Regions from separate parts of the Homo sapiens genome. Here region 1 is linked to region 2. A link means that fine-mapping ties the variant in region 2 to the plasma level of a protein whose gene starts in the linked region. Region 2 holds a variant in brackets. A gene starts in the other region. All regions are shown on their forward strands.

What was found. PIP is the posterior inclusion probability: the model's chance that the variant is causal. The UK Biobank Pharma Proteomics Project read protein levels with antibody pairs (Olink). The fine-mapping took linkage between variants from a reference panel, not from the people measured, so its PIPs are less certain.
Region 1: CRISP3 starts here. The variant in region 2 is fine-mapped to the plasma level of the CRISP3 protein (UK Biobank, PIP above 0.99).

The regions. Positions count from the first base shown.
Region 1 is chr6:49,738,188-49,750,331 of GRCh38, forward strand. It overlaps CRISP3 (cysteine rich secretory protein 3), which reads right to left and starts at 6,201. Exons shown (of 8, transcript NM_006061.4): 1 at 6,144-6,201. The coding sequence starts at 6,180.
Region 2 is chrX:148,500,840-148,508,839 of GRCh38, forward strand. It overlaps AFF2 (ALF transcription elongation factor 2), which reads left to right. Exons shown (of 21, transcript NM_002025.4): 1 at 1-305. The coding sequence starts at 259. Among named protein-coding and RNA genes, the nearest start is that of AFF2, 4.2 kb to the left of the region's middle. RefSeq lists an enhancer at 438-1,315. The variant G/A (reference allele first, on the strand shown) is at 1,599.

The DNA.
Region 1 (12,144 bases), not on the chromosome of region 2:
ACTTCTTAGAATTCTACTGAAATTATAAACTATACTAAAAAGTTTTAAGCATAAAATTTTCATCATGTTATCATTTATAAGGGTTAAAACATTGTAAATTAATTACATGCCTAGCAATAGGGAGATATAATGTCTAAGTAAATGAGAATACATCCTCTTATGGCAGTATATTAGACATAAAAACCACTATACATTTATGGTTGTTTTGTAACCTCAGAGAAGAAGCTTATGCTTCAGTGTTAAGTTTAAAAACAAGAAAGCAGAACAAATAGTATATGGTAGATCCTTAGCCTTCTGATTTGGACTGAACGTTAATAGAAGTAGTGACTCATCCTACAAAAGCTCTTCCTTCTTAGTTATTCACTGGTTCCTCCTGAACCTCAGCTCTGGGGGCTGGGACTGGGTCTCCCTTAGACTATGAACTTAGCTAACACCAAATCCCCACAGAACTCCCAGAGGAAGAGCTTTCCACCCCAGACTGGTTCCCAGCACTAAATTCAGCTTTCCTTCTCCTAACCAGCACCTCTGCACCCCACCACCCCGCCCACTGTGAATCTAAGTATTGGGATGCAGCCTGATATACACTTGCAAAACCCATTTTCATGCTATTAAAGTCAATGTCACAAACCATCTCGTCCCAGCATCGCCCCACAATCACCCCGCAAATATGGGACTTTGCTGGTATCCATTTGTATCACTTTTTCAAAGATATTTCCAATGGAAGAACAAGAAAATGGGAGCAGGGGAGATATACTTTTGATAACAAGTGTGGTTTTATTTTGTCCAATGCATTAATAAATACACTTGAAGTCTGAAAAAAAAAAAGAATCCACGAAAAATGATGTTGCCAGAATGCAGATCTGGAGCTCCAGAAGATTTCAAACTACTAGTGTTATAGACCTTGAAACTCACTCAGAAATAACTTAACCTGGCCCTGCTTCCACTTCTAAATCAATATGTTGATGCCCTAACTCCTAGTGTGCTGTATTTAGAGATGGGCCCTCTAGTGCGTCTCCTGCAGAATTTGAGAGCAAAAGAGGAAAAACAGATTCTTATTTTCATTTGTAAGTCAAAGACAATTAGGTATTCTTCTTTCCTTTAGGAGACATTTATCAAGTTTTGTACACTCTATTCAGGATAACATGTTATAATATTGCTGCACATGATCAAGTGAACAAGACTTGGTTCTTGCCCTCAGAGTCCTGGTATATAATTACGGGAGCTCATCATTCAAGTACCCAGAGGGGGAGCTGGTTGAATTTTCTCATGTGTGCAAAAGAGGAGAGTAAAATTTTATTTCCTTTTACAGTGATCCATTCCAATGCTTTATGGAGAGAGATGGGGAAGAATCTAGCACAATTCAGGGCTCAGGGAGTAAACAACTTGAATGAGATAAATATGATAAAGATGTAACATCAGCTTTAAGACCAATAATGGTGACAGAGAGTCGCTGTAATATTTCACTCCATCCCCACCTCTCCTCCCAAGGGACTACTGTAAATAGCAGGTGCAAGTGGAAAATGATTTGTTTGCAATTCCATTTAGTAGTAGCGTCACATAGAAGGTACTAGAAAGAATGAAAAAAAAATAGCCTCTCCTGTCATTCACTTCCATGAAGCAATTTCTAAGTGTATTAGTTATACATTATTTTCTACTATTCCTTGGAAATAAGCAGTAGATTTCTCTTAATTCATTTCACTTGAAAGAGTTATTTTGCTATGTGTAAGTCACTGAGTCCTACCTTTTATATGGTTTTCTGTTCTGTTCTGGTTTTCCTTTTTCAAAGAAATTAATAATTTATCTCAAGTGTGATTAGAGAAAAACCAAGTCCCTGGATTTCAAAGATTTATGATTTCAAATAGTGATGGTTTGCTACTAATTCCAGATCTACAGCAGAGCAAATTGTGTCTTTCTGAAGCATAAATGTATATAATACAATTAAACTGTAACATACTGTGCCTTCTTCACACTGATGTTAGGACCACTGGTATGTTTGAAACACTCCCTTGGAAAAGGAAATCATTTTATCAAATGACCTGATATCACTGCATATTGACTGACAACATATATCTACAAAAACTTCTATAGGCATATCTGGCTTTAACAGTCCATTTTGTGGAAATAAGGATTTGCAAATTAGGAAGTAGGACAAATTTGCTTAGTGCTAAGAGAAGAATTAATCAAATGGTCTATTTATAAAGCAAGCCTTTGGCTTTTATTTCAGGCACAATATCAAAATAAGCAAGCTTCTTGCTGCCACCCCAAAATTAACTCTGAAAAAATTATAGAAGCAAGAGGGAAACAGGGATTCCAAGAAAATACTGAAAAGATAGTGAGAAAATCTGAGGAGAATAAAGTCTCTCATGACTTCTAGAATGTGTATATGGATGTGTGTGTGTGTGTGTGTGTGTGTGTGTGTGTGTGTGTTGTGTATAGTGAATGTGAAGGAGAGGGGAGTGCTGCATCCAACAGCAGTGGTTGGTCTAAAGTAATGCCTGTTAGTTTCTACTCTTGCCTCAAAACAATCGATTCCTCTTTATTTGCAAAATTCTGCAACAACAGAAAAACGCTTGCTCTAGTGCTATGTGTCAGCAAAGTAGCATCGAAGAACTGTAAGACCCATCCTGTGTGGGGCTGGATGCGGTGGCTAATGCCTGTAATCCCAGGACTTTGGGAGGCCGAGGTGAGCAGATCACGAGGTCAAGAGATCGAGACCATCCTGGCTAGCACGGTGAAACCCCATCTCTACTAAAAATACAAAAAATTAGCCGGGCATGGTGGCGAGAGCCTGTAGTCCCAGCTACTCGGGAGGCTGAGGCAGGAGAATGGCGTGAACTCGGGAGGCAGAGCTTGCAGTGAGCCGAGATCGCGCCACTGCCCTGGGCGACAGAGCGAGACTCCGTCTCAAAAAAAACAAAAAACAAAAAACAAACAAACAAAAAAAACAAACAAAAAAAAACCACCAAAAAAAAAAAAACAAAAAACGAAAGTACCATCCTGTGTGAAGAACCAATGATAATAAGGTCATGTGTGATAGCACTCTCCAGTGCTCTTATACTCACGCCTTCTTACTCCCTAGTGTTGTATGGTTCAAATTAGCTTGACTACTTCCTCCCAATGCTGTTTTTTCCTGAAATGTAATCTGAGGAGTGGATATAATTCCGGGATTGACTCATAAAAGACGTAAGAATAATAGTAAATAATACATAAGCCCACTTCATAAATGAATTGCAAGAATCCTAACAAAATATTAACTCATCAATTTCAAAAATATATTAAAAATATCATGACCAAGTAAAATTATATGAGGACTGCAAGAATAATTCAAAATTAGAAAATTCATTGGTAAAATTCATCACATTAACAGACTAAAGCAAAGTAATATGACAAAAAATACGTCATTAAATTCAACCCCTGTATGTAGTTTTTTTTTTTTTTTTTTTTTTTAAAGAAAAAATAGAAGAGATCATTACTTTGGTAGGAAGCATATACTGCAAATCTATACCCAATATAATGGTTATTGGAGAAATTCTAGGTGCATTTCATTTAATATTGGGAACAAGAAAAGAATGACTAACACTTTTATTTAACACAGTACTGGAGAGATCCTAATCAAAGCCATAAGAAAAGAAAGTATATACATATATATATATATAATATATACAAGTAATGTAATGTATACATTTTATGTTATATATAATAATATAAAATATATTATTATATATAAAATATTTGTAACTTTTGTAAGAGAAGACGTAAAATTGTTATTGTTTTCAAATGATAAGATCATCTATCTGGAGAACACACCAAAATTAACAATTTTGCTAGATGCACTATCAACTTACAAAAATACCATTTCTATTACTGGAAACACTCAACTAGAATATAAGATTTAAGAAACACTTATAACAGTTAAAAAAACTATACAGTATCTGGGAAACAACAAAACAAATTTAAAAATCCTTTTTGGAAAAAATCTTAAAACTTTAATAAAGAACATAGCAGAAGTTCTGAATAAATTGAGAGTTTTGTAATGCTTTTAAATGGTACATGTTAGCATAAAGATATCAATCCTAAACTAACCTGATAATTGTTTACTTTAATTCCAATACAAATTTTAAGTGGCTTATGAATAACTGAGTAAACTTTTAAAAGAAGAATTGCTTGGGCGCAGTGGCTCATGCCTGTAATCCTAGCACTTTGGGAGGCCAAGGAGGGTGGGTTGCCTGAGCTCAGGAGTTTGAGACCACCCTGCGTAACATGGTGAAACCTCGTCTCTACTAAAACTACAAAAGTTAGCCGGGCATGGTGGTGCATGTCTGTAATCCCAGCTACTGGGGAGGCTGAGGCAGGAGAATTGCTTGAAACTAGGAGGTGGAGGTTGCAGCGAGCCGAGAGTGTGCCACTGCACTCCAGCCTGGGCGACAGAGCAAGACTCCATCTCAAAAAAAAAAAAAAAAAAAAGGAAGAAGAAAAGAAAAAGAAAAAAAAGAAAGAATTAATTGGGTTATCTTTTCATATTAGTTATTAAGATAGACTTCAAACATTTGTTGACAAAAATTTAATATTATTGTAGGAACAGATAAATCAACTGGTGGAGGAAAATACAAAACTTAAGAGACAGACCAAACATCGTAACATTAAAAAGCAAAGGAGGAAGAACAGACTATAGAAATATTTTAAAGGATTACGTGGATTAGAAAAGATGTCAAAAGCATTAACACATGTGAGTATAATGTGTGCACTATAGGTATAGACACATTTATAAACTAGTCACAGCACAGAAAAGTATTTGATGCAATATTTTCTTACTTAAAATTTAATAGTTAATCTTTATTCTGATCACTTTCTTTCATCTTATTATGTATCTGTGATACAGAAAGCAGCCTATGCCAATATGCAAAGTTTGCAAAACTGCTAGACTTCATCAAGTAAGAAATTCGTAAAGATATCCAAATAAGAATAGCTGTCTTGCATTTCTTGAGAAGCACTTTTTTTTCAAGGATGAATTCCCTCCCTTTTACTTGAATTCAATAAATAACGTAACTGAAATTCATAGCAATTATCAGATTTACATTACTTGAGAATTCTGACACTCTTCCTCCCAATTCATCCCTGCCTGTTACAAATCAGAAGCCCCAATTTACCTCATAACTTATCAATGTAGGGTAACTCCCAGGCTTGAAACTTGTCATCAATTTAATTTCTTTTGATCCACTTTCAGAGGTCTTAGTCATACAGGCAGACATTCTAGATTTGGTTTTAACTAGCAGAAGAGGCAACACCGGATCTTCTATGGCTATTGCAAATACTCCCAGAGTTTCCTGGATAGCATTTAGCCACAGGGAAGAAAAGCATTTTACTTTAAAATCTTCTGTCTAGTGGTAAATAACCCCTTTCATGTTGTCATTAGGTAGTTCTGTGGTCTCCTACTATCTGACTCTTCAGAATCACTTCTAATATGCTACGGAAGATAAAGCCGTATGTGGAAATTGCTTCCTTAGATGAAATATGCACGATAGATATTATATTTAAATTACCTACATAAACATGACTGAGTAGACTGACTTTTGACTGAAAAACTTCTAAAAGCCTTTTTTTTTTGTTTTTGATCTGAGTGCATTTCATGAGGTAAATTGCATTTTATGTTGATGGTCTTTAATAAAATACTTTTTAATCTTGAGATCAGTGCTATAATTTTGTTTTGACCAATTTAAAACTTTTGCTATGGCATCCCATATAGCTGTATGTTTTAATATTAGTAAAAGTTACTGATGTGAAAGTATGCACACACATATATTCATAGTTTTTCATTTTTCTATTAAAAATAGTTCTAGTACAATTGTTTCCACAAGTCATAGACATGGGAATTAGTTATATTACTTTAGAATGAAAGGTAAAAATTTATTTAAATTTCAAACTGGATAAAAGTGCTTTTGGAATAATAAAGCTGTCTATGTATTAGCTTCTCAGCTTAAAATGAATATATTAAGATAATTACTCTCATTAAAAGTTATCAATAAACTTTGGAAAATTGTAGATAAAATATACGAATATATCACTTTATCATTGATAAGGTATAAATGTGTTGTTCACCTTGAAATAAATAATGTTCACCTTGAAATAAAGGAGTTATCACTTACCAGTGGTTTCCAGAGCAGGATGAAGTATTTGTTTCATCTATTGACAGAAGGAAGGTGCAGAGAGAGAAGGTTAGAGCCGTATATATGAAACACCTATTTCCTGTTTTGGCAAATTCTGGTTGTGCAAGTAACTCTAGATCAACAAGGCCTGAAACAGGATTTGTCATACCAGTAGTCTCAAATTTCATTGCTGGTTTTCTAGTCATGATTTTGAAATTATTTGGTGATTCCTCAAATGGCTTTTAAAAATAAATTGCTATATCAAGTTTTGTAATTGTGCATTTATTCTTTGAAGTTCATATATTACAATTTATCCATGTTTTTGCCAGTCAATAGTTTGAAAATTCTTAGCCCAATTATTAGCATCACAACATTAGAGTTTTCAGAATTATTTCTGTTGGATTGAAATTAAGCTCATAATTTTTATGAACTCTAGAGAACACAATGTTTTTTACAGCTATCTAAAATGTTTATTAATAATCTATTGGACATTACTGTTTTGGATAATAATTTTATCTTTAATGTTTGTAAATACAAGGCCACAGTGACTTTCAGAACTCAATGGCCAAACACACCATAACTCATTGGTATTTCTATATTCAAAGATGTGCTGTATTTACTTGTATTTTCTGGTTGTATAAAATTAAAGATAATATTGATCTCCAAGCTAAATTATCATTATTTGGTTCTGTTCATCTATGGAAGATGTCAATCATTCCAGGCTTGTTTCCATAGCACAATAATGAAGTGGGGTGGACTAACAATTTCAGATTTCCTCTGATTCTAAAATACAATAATCTTAAATATTGAGTTTATATAAATAAAGAAGTATAAATTAATAAATCACAAGTAGCATATACATAGCACGCAGACATTTCTGCATGCTCATATTGGCATATAGATTGCACCTTGTGGTGCATAATTCAATAGTTTCTGTTCATTTTCATTTTTATATTTAGCTTTATTGATCAATGTGACAAAATGTATAATCACAGATCAATGTCTACACAATAGGCACATTTTAAAATTATAGTTAATTTTGAGTTCAAGAATTGGATACTTCTAAATGTCTGTTATAAGAGAGTTGAGAACTCAGAAACTCAGGTCAGATTTTACCATTAAAAAATGGTTAACCATTTGCTGCCATGTCTCCAAGTAACTCCTAGAATCTGTTTACTTTATGAACATGTGAAGTGGAAGCTCTCAATAAACCAAATCAGCTATGTGGAAAAAATCACCATGGAACAACCTTCTACACAATCCTCTTTCTGTGGCAAAATGTATTTTGTGGGGAAGGACCAGACCCAGAAGCATCCACAGCCCATTCTCTTCTCTACTTAGTGGTGTAGAATGTTGTTAAAAGCTTGATATTTCTGTTTTAATGGAAATGGGCTAAATTTCTATACCAATGTGTATTGGGAAATTTTTATATTTTATTATTTTATTTTATATCATATTTTATTTTATTTGAAGCAGGATCTCACTCTATCATCCAAACTGGAGTGCAGTGGTTAGATCAGAACTCATTGTAGCCTTGAATTTCTGGGCTCAAGGGATCTCCTATTTCAGCTTCCCAAGGAGCTGAGACCATGGTGTGCACTACTATACACAGCTAATTTTTTAAATTTTTTTGTAGAGACAGAGTCTTGCTATGTTGCCCAGCTAGTGTCGAATTTCTGGCTTCAAGCAATCCTCCTGTCTTGGCCTCCCAAAGTTCTGGACTTACAGGCATGAGCCACAGCACCTACTTTATTAGGAAATTATTATTCTGATTGTAAATTTTCATATTTATCATAAATGGGAATAATATTAATTGTATTTAATTGTGATACATAATATATGTAAGCTGCCTGCCATGTAGTAAGTATTTCCAGTGTTAATTCTCTCCCACTTTATGCACTTTTCTTCTGTATCTAGACAAACCTACCCCTAATATTTGTAAGCTGTGGGATTGCACTTGAGTTTTAGGACATGGTTTGACTTACTAAGCTATAGGCAGTTCTGTGAGAAATTACCATAAGTAGACACAAAACAGTATAAAAAGGAAAAATATTTTTGCCTCATTATTCAAACTTGATAGTTTTTCTCTAACTTTTTACTGAGTTATGACTAAATGACCACTAGATGCACCATGATGTAGAAGGCATTTTGCTTGTCAAATATTGGTACATTTATTATTAAGCTAAATAAGTATATGTGGTCTTTTTGGGTCACAAAATACCATACACACGTTGGACTGACAGACTGACTTCAATCTGACCTTAAGTGTCCAAAATGGCTGTTTCTAGTCACCTTTGTTCTCTCATTTCCCATGATTAGGTTGTCTTTTCTGTATTTACGTGTCCCAAGGTCATTGCTGGCCCTTCATGATCCATGTCTCCCAATTTTAGCAGTGAGTGTCTTCCAGCTCTTATTTGGATATCTAAGTTCCATCTTAAAAGAGCAAATAGTTTGTTCCTGTATATACATTTTAATCTATTCCCACTATTCTATTGAAACTTATCAATGAGTCTCTTAGCGACTGTTGCTATTAATCATTACATTTTGTTTTAGGAATGCTCCTTTTCTTACTCTTTAAAATTATTCTTCTATTCCTATGCTTTGACTAGTACAGTGTAACCAGATTGTCTATAATATGAATAAATAAAGCACAGCTTCCATCTCTTCCTAGTCAGCCCTTCTCTCATCTTAGATACAACAACATCTGAATGCTGCCTTCCTGGGATTTCTACACTGACCACCCAAAACTGACTAGTTATTACAAGGGCAACTGGGATCCCTGCCTTACAGCTGAACTCTTGACCCAGCTTTTTATGACTTTTACTTCCCCATTATTACCAACTACCTATAGTTTACTGATTACAGTCTTTGGAAATTGCCAGGTCTGAGAAATCCTTTCTGAGCTTCAGTTTTCTCTTCTCTGAAATGTGAATTTTCATATCATACGTTGGTTTTAATGACTGAAAAGCATAATTTGTGTATAAAAATGTACTGAATACATAATTAAACTATTAGTGCGATGCTTGGCATGTGACACTCAATAAATGGAATTATTAACATTTGTATTATTATCCCTTCCAAAGCCTGGTATTTCCTGAGTACATAAAAGTCTTCCACGAATGCATTTTGTTTGATTGAACTGCCAATTCAGGAGTCTTTATAAGAAGTCTTTCTTGTTTTAGGTATTTAGGAAACAATCATAGTTTAACCAGAAATTCAAGTGTTTAAGGTGCAGTTCTATCAAAGCCTGTCAGGGTGACTTTAACAAAATGATTGAGCATCTCTCATTTTCTGTATCCTCACCAATAAATTAAGGAGCACAGACTCAGGTGCATTTTAGAATTAGAATTAATTTTACTCTGCTCTCATTAATAAATAGTAGATTTATAAATCAGTTGTTGTTTTGTTGAATTATCCTTTAATATAATGGTTTAATTTAGTGACTTATTAATTTCCAAGAAAGGTATAGTCTGTGTGTCAATTTATTTGCATTTTTCTCTTGCTTCCTCAGTCCCTTTGGTTAATATCCTGATTACTTTTTGTCACTCAATGCCTAATTATATGAGTGAAATATCAGAATTATAAATTATTTATGTGTTTCACCATTCAGTGTATTATTTATTACACACACACAAACACACATGCACACACCCATATAAGATCACACGATCTTAGGTCAGGTTTGCAAGAAATACACTGAGACACAAATTACATTGGCTCTGATTTATTGAGGAAGTACATTGCAGCAGAAAGGAAAAGAGTGAAGCAGGTCAGGGGAGGACAAAGAGCTAAAGAAGAATGTGTTCTCAGGTAAAATCTAGTCTTCCCTGATTAATAGAGGCAGTGCTGCAGACAGCCTTTTTAAACCTATGAACAGTCAGTCATTAGTAACAGTGGGGAGATGACAAGGTGGTTCTCCTCTGCCAAAGGCAATTCTCTTGAGAGGGGGCAGATGTGGGCACAGTAGCTAATTCTCACAACATCTGGGGGACAGAAGCATTGCCTCTGGGATGGGATCTCTGTGCAATACCTAAACAGCATCCACCATAATATGGGATAATATTTGCATTATTACAATAGTTGCATATTATAAAGATGATGTAAAAAACAGTGAAGGTGCTTATCATGATCACATGATTCATTTATCTCATTTTAAAAGTGAAGGAGCAGACAAAATAACTTAAAAAGTCCTTCCATATTTAAAATTATGTATGTCTCTGTTTAAGGAAAAGGGAAAACAAGGCTCTGTCTTGCTTCTTTCACTAATTGGATGTATTTGTTTGCTAAGTCCTTGACTCTTGCTAGTCTTGGTTTTAATCCAATTCTGTTTTCTTGCCTGTAAAATAGAGACAAAAATAATACCTAGTGTTGTGAGGATCAAAATGTTGGTGTGTAGAAAACATTTTTTGACTGTACTAACCTGAGTGCTAAGAGAACTGAAAAATTCTGTCCCTGAGTTACTGAAGCAGTAAGACTAGCATGTGAAAAAAAAAAACTGTAGAAAAACATATGAATCCACGTGATTGGTGATAATATCTGTATTGCCCATTGTAATGGCTGTAAGAATTCAAGTAGAGGAATACACTTTATGGGTAAATAAAAGATGTTTATATACCAAAAATTGGAGATGAGTTGGTATTAATGGATGAACAAACTTTGGGCCCGAATGAAGTTAACAAATCCAACTTTGATTTTTTTCAATGTACATATTTATTTTTAAAATTGACATACAAAATCGTATGTATTTATAATGAACAACATGTCTTGTAGTAGAGTAAGTCCTCATACATCACAAATAGGTCCTGGAAAATGATGCATAAAAACAGCATTTTTTTCTCATTGACATTATAATGATATGATGTTGAAAAAAACGATGTTATTAAAAGATGTGCTGTATGTTGTTTCACTTGAAGTCGCAGTTTCCAAAAATGTATTGACTGTGTTAAATGAGGACTTACTGTATAAATACATTGTGGAATGGTTAAATCTAGATAACTAACAAATGCGTTACTTTTCTTAGTTTTTATTTTTGTGGTGAGAACACTTAACATCCACTCTTCTAGCATCTTTTCAAGAATATAATATTTGCCATTAACTGTAATTGCTACGCTGTAAAATAGATCTCTTGAACTTACTCCCCTCCAAACTGTACATGTGTGTTCTTTAACCAACATCTCAACATGCCTTCTTACGTCCCACCCATAAGCTCTAATGCCCAGCATTCTACTGTTTTCTTGACATGAAGTTTTTTAGATTCCACATATGAGTTAGATCATACAGCATTTGTCCTTTGTGTCTAGCTTATTTCACTTAACATAATATCCTCCAGATTCACTCATGTTGTCACAAATGGCAGGATTTTCTTATTTTATTTTTATGACCAAATAGTATTCCATTGTGTGTGTATGTGTGTGTGTACGTGACATATATATATCACACATAAAATGTGATATATATATATATCCCACTTTCTTTATCCATATCCATAAGGTTGCTTCCTTATCATGGCTATTGTGAATAGTGCTTCAATAAACATGGGAGTGCAGATATCTCTTCAACATACTAATTTCACTTCCTTTGGATATAGATCCAATAGGGGCATTATCAGATAATATGGTAGTTCTATTTTTAATTTTTATAGGAATCTCCATAATGTTTTTCATAATAGCTGTACTAATTTAAATTCCTACCAACCAACACAACTTGGTTGGTAGTAATAGAGTCCTAGAGAGGAGTCTATTATTAACAGAAAGGTTACTCTTTGTTTTCAGTTTCTTTACAGTTATACTTGGAAGAGAGGCAGTCTCTGGTACATGGAGGCTTATATTAGATATTTGCTAATGATAAGTCAGTTAAGATGAAAAAATGTGACACTGCATACATAATTAATTCCAATGTATCTTAAGCTAGTAGAAACAGCATATCTCTTGGCTTATACTCTATTTTAAATAATTCTGTTTATATGTTTATTTGATATAATCAACCAGTCTGTGACAATTTT
Region 2 (8,000 bases):
ACCGCGGACCGAGCGGACCCGAGTGGGCGACCAGGCGCTTGCCCGCCCAGTGCCACTGCCGCCGCTTCCTCGCCGGAGCACAGGACCAGACACCTCCAGCGCCCGCTGCTGCTGCCGATGCGGCCCGGACACTTTTAGCTGGGCGGGAGGGCTGGAGAGCCGGGGGCCGCCGAGAACCGCCAGCGAGCTGTGCCGAGAGCCGCGCCGACCCGCTGCGATCAGGGACAGGCGCCCGCCCGCCGCCGCCGCCTGGCCGCTATGGATCTATTCGACTTTTTCAGAGACTGGGACTTGGAGCAGCAGTGGTAGGTGTTGATTTTTGCCTTCTCCTTTGATGAGCGAGTCTCCTGGCGAAGTCTGAGGTTTTCGCCTTTGTTAAGAGGAGCTGAAGCTGTCGTGGGGGGCGCCCCGGACTCCCTCCCACTTGCTCTCAGCCACCTCTGGCCCCGGCCGCGCTGACTCCTAGGTCGGATGCCGGGGTGGGGGGAGGTGCGGGAAGAGGGAGGGATGCGGACCCGAAAGCGTCGCTTTGCGCTCCAAGTCTAAAGAGTTGCATTTGGCTCACATCGAATTCGGTGCCGCCCGAGGGCTGAACCGCACGACCTCCCAGGAGCTTTTCTCTCGGAGCGGCTTGCCGGTCTGGCCTCCTTGAGCCCCGGATGCCGCCCGCCCGAAATGTCTCAACTTTCCAGGTGCCCAACGCCCGCGGCGGGCCATGGGGGAAAGGCAACGGCCAGGTGCGGCCAGCAGCCCTCTGCTTCCTTGGTGGCCACCGCCCCCGCTGCCGCCACCTCCATCCCTGCGCTGCGCGGCGCGCACACCTTTCCTTCTGCCGACTCAGCCCAAGTTCCCTGCACTCCCGGGTGGAGCAGCGGCTTTGGGGGCCACCACTCAGGGGACCTTGGTTCGAGGCCGACTTCGGCGCTTGGCTTTCAAGACTGAGGGTTTTCGGAGTTGGCCCCCCAAATCCGCAGCTCTGATGTCAATGCACATTTAATTACCGGATGGACCCCCTTCGGCCTCCCACTGGGAGGCAGCCGTAGTTTTTTGTAAGGGACCTCCAGCTCAGATTCAAAGGTTGAGTCAGCTCTTCACAAAATACCCTAAACTTGTCGCTGAGACATTTTGAAAGATGGTAGAAAGGTGACTGGGGACCTGGAAAGTTGTTAACTCTCTTAGAGATGTGCGTGCGCGTGTGCATAAATACTGATATACATATCTATTAACTTTTCAAAAACTTCACCTACTACAAACATTATCACAGTTTATTTGTCATAATACTTAAACGTATCAGATTCCCCCCGCAGTCTAAGGAATTAGATGGGGAGGGGGCGCAGTGGTAACCGCTTAAAATTGCATTCTTGGTTATTGCCTTTTAAAATGTATTTAGAATGATCTGTAGTACCTACCAATAGTGCGAAATCTTTTGCAATGTTAAACTACTAGCGGCCGTTGGTTATGAATGCTGTGTATTTTTACAAGGATTTCCCCTGTTGATGTGATATTTTAGGCAATTTCCTTCTTTAAAAAAGGGTCATATGCTTAGCCAACAGCTTCATTATGCCAATCATGCCTCCTTTAGTTGCAAATCCAAGATA[G/A]TCAGAACTTAAATACATTTTATTTTACAGCAATTCCGGATAAATCCTTGAAGCGCAAATTATGCTGTATCAGTATTAATCTATAAGGCGTTTTGGATACCACGGTTTTATCAGCTCTGTAGAAATACATTGTTACATTAAAAAATGCTGTTATTTGAAAGTAAAAATTACTATAAAATTATTGCTCAATTAGATATTATGCTTCTGCACACAGCCTTTACTCTGCTTCACTAATTTATTTTGCAGACAACTGATAACCATAGCACTCTATTTGCATACAATTTGCCTAATATGTGGTGTGGGTTACATCGTTAATTTAACAGACATTGTTATAATTAATTTCATGGGTATAGTTCAAATGTTAAACATATACAAGGTATTAGGTTTTTAGAAACATGTTTTTTATATTAATTCCGGTTTAATCTTATGCATATGCAATTGCATATTTAAAGGGAATGGACTCTTTTATGTTTGATTTCTTTAAAAAAAATGATAGGCTCCCTCACCCCTGTGGGAGGCTTTCTTTTTCTTATCTTAAGGAAAATGCAAAACCTTTTTTTCCTCCAGATCCCTAACTGAGACACATCAGTTAAGAAGCATAGACTTGGACACTTCGTGAATATTATGTGAAATACTGATTAATTAGTGTAACGCATCTGCATAAATAAGCCTGTCCTTTCCCTCTGTACATGATCCAGGAAAATTTCTCCTTCTTACTGCTCGTGAGTGGCACACTTCGTGATGCATCTCTGTTTATAAACATTTGTAATGTGGTTGTGCTTTTGTGTTTTGTATAGCTCCACAGAGAAAAGGAACATAAATGTGACAATAGTGGATGAACTAAAAAGCTTGACATTGTCTTGAGTGGAAATTGGTACCTTTCCCACTTCTCTTTGGAAGTCCAGAGCATGCCAGTTACGTGTTCATTATATGTTTACTTCCATTCCTTGGGAGTAAATAGCTACTTAAAGTGATGGCCTCCACTCCCCACGCCCCCAAGCCCCCAGGAGGGCCAAGAAAGGAAAAAAGACCAGCAAAGTTAACGATCTTATTTACCTTGAATTTATTCTTAACATTCACTTATGGAACAGTAAGCTCTGAGCTGTCTCTACTGCAACCCTAGATGTCTGACAATAAATGGATCAGGACAGCTTAAAAACAAACTCATTTTCCTAGACATAATGAAGAAAGACTTTACATACACAGGCATATGTGTTATTTGCAAACACTTGACTGTAGTAAACAAAAAGTGTGTGCCCATTTATAAACACACACATTTGTTAGGGCAAATGCAAATGGAAAGGATGGGGTACTAATGATGCTGCAGTGTGCATGTTATGTGCAGTGTTTTGGAATGCTCACATGCCTAATGGAACATACCACTGGATTTCACAAACTGCAAGAATAACTTAATGGGTCATGCTCTGGACTCGATTAAAGGGCCAAAGCTCAAGTTCTTTAAGATTCTTGGATGAATGAGCAATGTTCACCTGAGTCTGAATTTAATATAAACCATTCTGTGAAAGAAAAAGATGGCACAGATGTCTGTCTGTGTGCATGAAAGACATCACTTGCTCTTAAAGAAAAAGATAAATTAAAAAAAAATCAAATTTCTTCATTTAAATCATTCCATAGACTTGTTTTTGGTAACCAAGTAAATGAATACTTGAGGTGACTGAAGATCAGGTAATGATGTCATTAATCCCCATTTAAGAGGGAAAAAAAGCAAATTCAGAGGGCCTACAAAATGTACAGCCTTTCAGTTCTGTAAGCACCTCCCACCCAGTATTGATTAGGTATTGCTTTGTGACAAGCCAAGGTTCTTTGTGGGGATGCTTACCTTTTCTTCATTGGAAGGAAGGAAAGGAAAGAAAAGAAAGAAAATACAGAAAGGGACACATTCTTAAAAAAAAGAAAAGAAAAGAAAAGAAAACCACCGTGATAGCAAAATCAGAACGTTCAAAAGCCTAGTTAAAATCGTAGTTAAGTGACTGTGACAGTGGCTGGCTTCTCACCGCAAGGGACAGCATCAATTGTTTGTAGTTTTTATGTGATGTCTCACAAATAGCCTAATTAGAGGCAAGCTTGCAAACGGGCAGTTATACAGGAAGAGACTTAAACTCACTAAACTGTTATATAAATAGAAAGTTCAAAGGTCTGTGTGGGGCTGTCAAGGCTGAGAAGGGGCCATGTGCCGGCCAGGCCTCTCCTCCTCCGGTAAAGGCAGCCCCCAGGGCCTGCCCCAGCAGTCCGAACTGCACTTTCCCCAGTTTTCTTCGACCTTGCGAGGGCGGGGCAGTGCCGGAGAAGGGGCGGGGGGCTGCTTTCTAGACAAAAGTGAACTGTTTCAGCTCCAGCCGGGCATGGCCCATGCACTGCAGCAACCCGGCTGCCTCCTCCTGTTCTGTGCGCACAGGTCTTCCGAGGCCTCGTTAGCTACAATCCTCCAGAAGAGCGGAACAGGACTGTTTATGGATGGGAAGGTGTGGGAGATGGGGGGAACACAACCTTTGCCAACTTGGAGATACTAGGGCTGTGGTGGGGTGGGGGGAGGGGAAGTCCTGTTTTGAATAAGGCCTAGAGATTCCCAGCATTTCTTGTTCTCTACCTCCATCCATTTATCTTTCCCGTTTTCCCTCTGTGGTCTCTTAAAAGGGAGACTGCCTATGGTCTGTTTTCTTTGCTAGTACAGTATGCATTCTCCCGTGTGTTTGAGCATTCATTCAACAAACCATTTTAGGTTGTGTTTCTTAAGGGAATGTGTGGGTAGGAGAAATTTAAGTTGGTGAAATTCACTAGTAAGGTCTCCTCCGCAACTCCCCAAACCCTCCAAAGAATAAAAGCTATCTCAGTACATCTTAAGAGGCACATCTATTGGACACGGAAGAAAATTATCTCATGGTAGAAATCAGTTTAATGATACATGAATTGTTTTGCTAATGATTCAGTCAAGCATTTAACAACTTTAAAATATACAAATCAAGGTAGAAAATGACTGCCTGGAAAATGAGTCCATCATTATAGACATGAATGAGATTCCATACATTTAAGCATCCTGTAGATGGATACAAATTATATTGTATTTAAACATGCTAATTATTGTTGAATAGAAATGGCTTTAATGTACTAACCTTTAACATGTAATAAATGCCCATGATTCTTAGCTAAGATTATTTTGCCATGCAAAATTTGCACTTATTTAACATAATTTCAAAATTGTAGAAGTCCAATGAAATGGCCTTCTCTGGAACAATTTAGAGCTGTGGCCTTAAGAGCTTGTAACTGTAGGTCATACCTCAAAGCGGAAAACTGCCATATACTTGATTAGCCTGTCACGTAGACAAAACAATTTTTGCTGCAGTGACTGCATTTTTCACTTGTAATTTTGTTTTTCTTTTTCTGATTGCTGTTGGATAAAGAGAGATTTCAAAAACTTGCTTACTGATAAATGGAAAGAAATGTTACTGATTAAAGAACTCAAGACCAAACTTGAAGAAACCTTTTTGAGTGTGTGTGTCTGTGTGTGTGTGTGTGTGTGTGTGTGTGTGTTACCTGTGGTAGAACTCAACATTATCATTGCTACTATAATTTGAGTGTTTACTCTGTGCCACAAGCTTGGACTAAATTCTGTAAAGACTCAATTTCGTTTAATCCTTCCAACAACTTTCTGAGATAGGACCTGTTATGATCCCTGTTTTACAGATGAAGCAATGAAATCACACAGGTACTCACTCAGTGATGCAATCCAGGTTTCAGCATAGATGGAGCTGACTCCAGAGCCTGCATCATCAACAACTGACGTTTTGTCTGAGCCTTTCCAACATGTGGAATGCTCTTCCACATGCTATCTCATTTGATCATTGTGAGTTAGAATGTTCAGGGGTTCTTGCCATTTTATTGAATGGCAAATTCATTCATTTTTTGTGTGGATCCGAATATTTATTTAGCCGTCACTGAAACAAATGGATTGGATTGTGTATATTGTACTTGTGGAAGAAATCTGTGGAATTACCATGTAATTTGACCAGCCATGGAACTCTGCTTTTTCCTTTTAATTAGAAAGAGAACAGTCTATATACTGATACAATCTCTTAGCATGTCATTTATGGATGCCCCCTTCATGAAAATGTGAGAATGGAAAATTATATATATATATATAAAGGAGACAAATCTCAAGTCCTTGAGAATTGTTCATTTAAATCTGAATGCTCAAATTTTGAAGATTTGATACTTGAACATAAAGAAGACCATGGTATATTTTTTGGCTCATTTGGAGCCTCAAAACTGGAGGTGGGAAGTTGGTAACATTTCTTTCCAAAGCTTTCTAATCTTACCATATGTATTAATTGATTGGACCCTCACAATAACCTTAAAGATTTGTTAGGATTGATATTTTAGCTTCATTTTGTAGATAATAAAACGGAAGTTCAGAGAGGTTAAGTTACTTGCCTGAATTTGCACAGTAGGTGAATAGTCTTAGGATATGTGTTTGTTGCTCTTTTCGCTGCATCACCACTGGTGCATTAAGTTGTTAATATTTAAATATCCACGTTGCTTCCTAGAGAATGGTGTGTCACCCTCTGGCATCATTTAGCACAGTGTTTTTCCATCAGAGGTACTCAATAAACATCTGTTGATTGATGTTACAGTCACATTCGACTCAAAGACTGTTCCATGCAAATGCAGGTCTCTTTCAAGGATAGTTACTTACTAAATCCTAGTGATAATACTGTCCCTCTGCCTGTGTGATTGTATATTAGTTATTTGTAATTCTTTTCATGTCTCTTAGCCAGTCTGATCTTTTTGCAGAAAATAAAGAGAATAACCAATGGATACAGAAGAAGATTAATAGGAAAAGGCAAAAATAGTATCCATGTAATTGGCATGTTTTTAAGAAACAGAATTTCTATGAATTCCAAGATATGTTTAGCCCAAAAGAAAAACAAGAGGAAAGAATATCTTTTAAGGTACAGCATTATAGGAATTAACGGACTGGTATTGTGTCTCAATCTGCATTGAGAACATTAATAAAGAATGTGTAACAAAAATCTGAGGAAAATATGAGTGGTCGGAGGGTTGGGATTCCTCCAGCTTTCCTTGAGTTTCAGTCTTTATGACTTGTATTTCATCATGAGAAGGCTGTTTTTCTACTTAACTGTAGCAGATCCACACCATAAATTATCATGACTGTTAAACAAAGGTCCAGCCCTGGGTTCTTCTAATGTAAAACTTTTATGTTACACTTTAATGAAATTTTATATGCATGTTCAAAGCAAGGCACACTTTACACCGTAGAGAGGGTGATGCACTGAATTGTTGAATTTATTTTGAAGTAAATCTTTTAGATGACCTTAGCGTCTAACATCTACCTACTTACTGAGCTGAAAAAAAGTTATCTGAGAGCTGAAAAAAATGACATGATTTAAGCAGAGCTGACAATAGCACTATAGCTAGAATGTGATTTTGATTATGGATTGCTTACTTTATGGGATGCTGTTTTTCAAACATACCTGTGTATTTTGCTTCATTTGAAAAATAAAATCAGCTAATGTTTCAAAGTAATCTTCGATTTGGTTCTTCAGTAGGTACGTTCTCTTATATGAAGGTGTAAAAGCCACACTTTGAGGATTAAGCTAAGGAAACAAGCTTTGTTTTCATTACAAAATCAAAATCACTCATCTGTTTATTTTTCCAATGCTTCGTTTGTTGGAGAAATAAAAGACATTACTTCCATCCTATGGAGAACAGTTTGTTTTGTTAGATTTCCAAATAATAGTTCTCTGCATCATCTACCATCTTCAATGAAAACCAGATCTCAGTAGCAGATACTGGTTCACTTGGTGACCTTTATTAAACCATTTTCCTGGAGTCAGTTTTTGTGTTTTGTAGGCAACGTATCTCCTGGAAATAAATAGCTTTGAAATGGTTTCTTTTTTGTATAAGTAAAAAATAATATGCTACTTGTTTTGTAGTGGTGCTGAAATTGAAATCTCAGCTTTAACAATCATTGGAAGAAGTTGCTTGCTAAAATTGTGATGTCTTCTTGGTGTTTGGGTTTCTAGTATGGTTTGATCAAACCAACCAAGCAGATGGAATGTGTTGTTATAAGGTCATTTTAACCTGTAGACTACGGCAATATGTACATGACAACCTGACTATCTGTTGAACAATGAAAAATGCAATTACGTAGGCTTTATTTCCCCCTTCAGGATGTCAGCCAACAAATTTTTTAATGAATTAATTTTCCAAAGGACTGATTGTTTTCATGCCAGGTCGGCACAACCACAGTGACTAAATTAGACTCAGTGTGATGGATGTTTCTGATGAAGTGCCGTGGAGAGGTCTCATCAATTTGCTATTATTTATTTGCTGCCAAAGTGCTTGGCTTTGGTGTGTAGACGT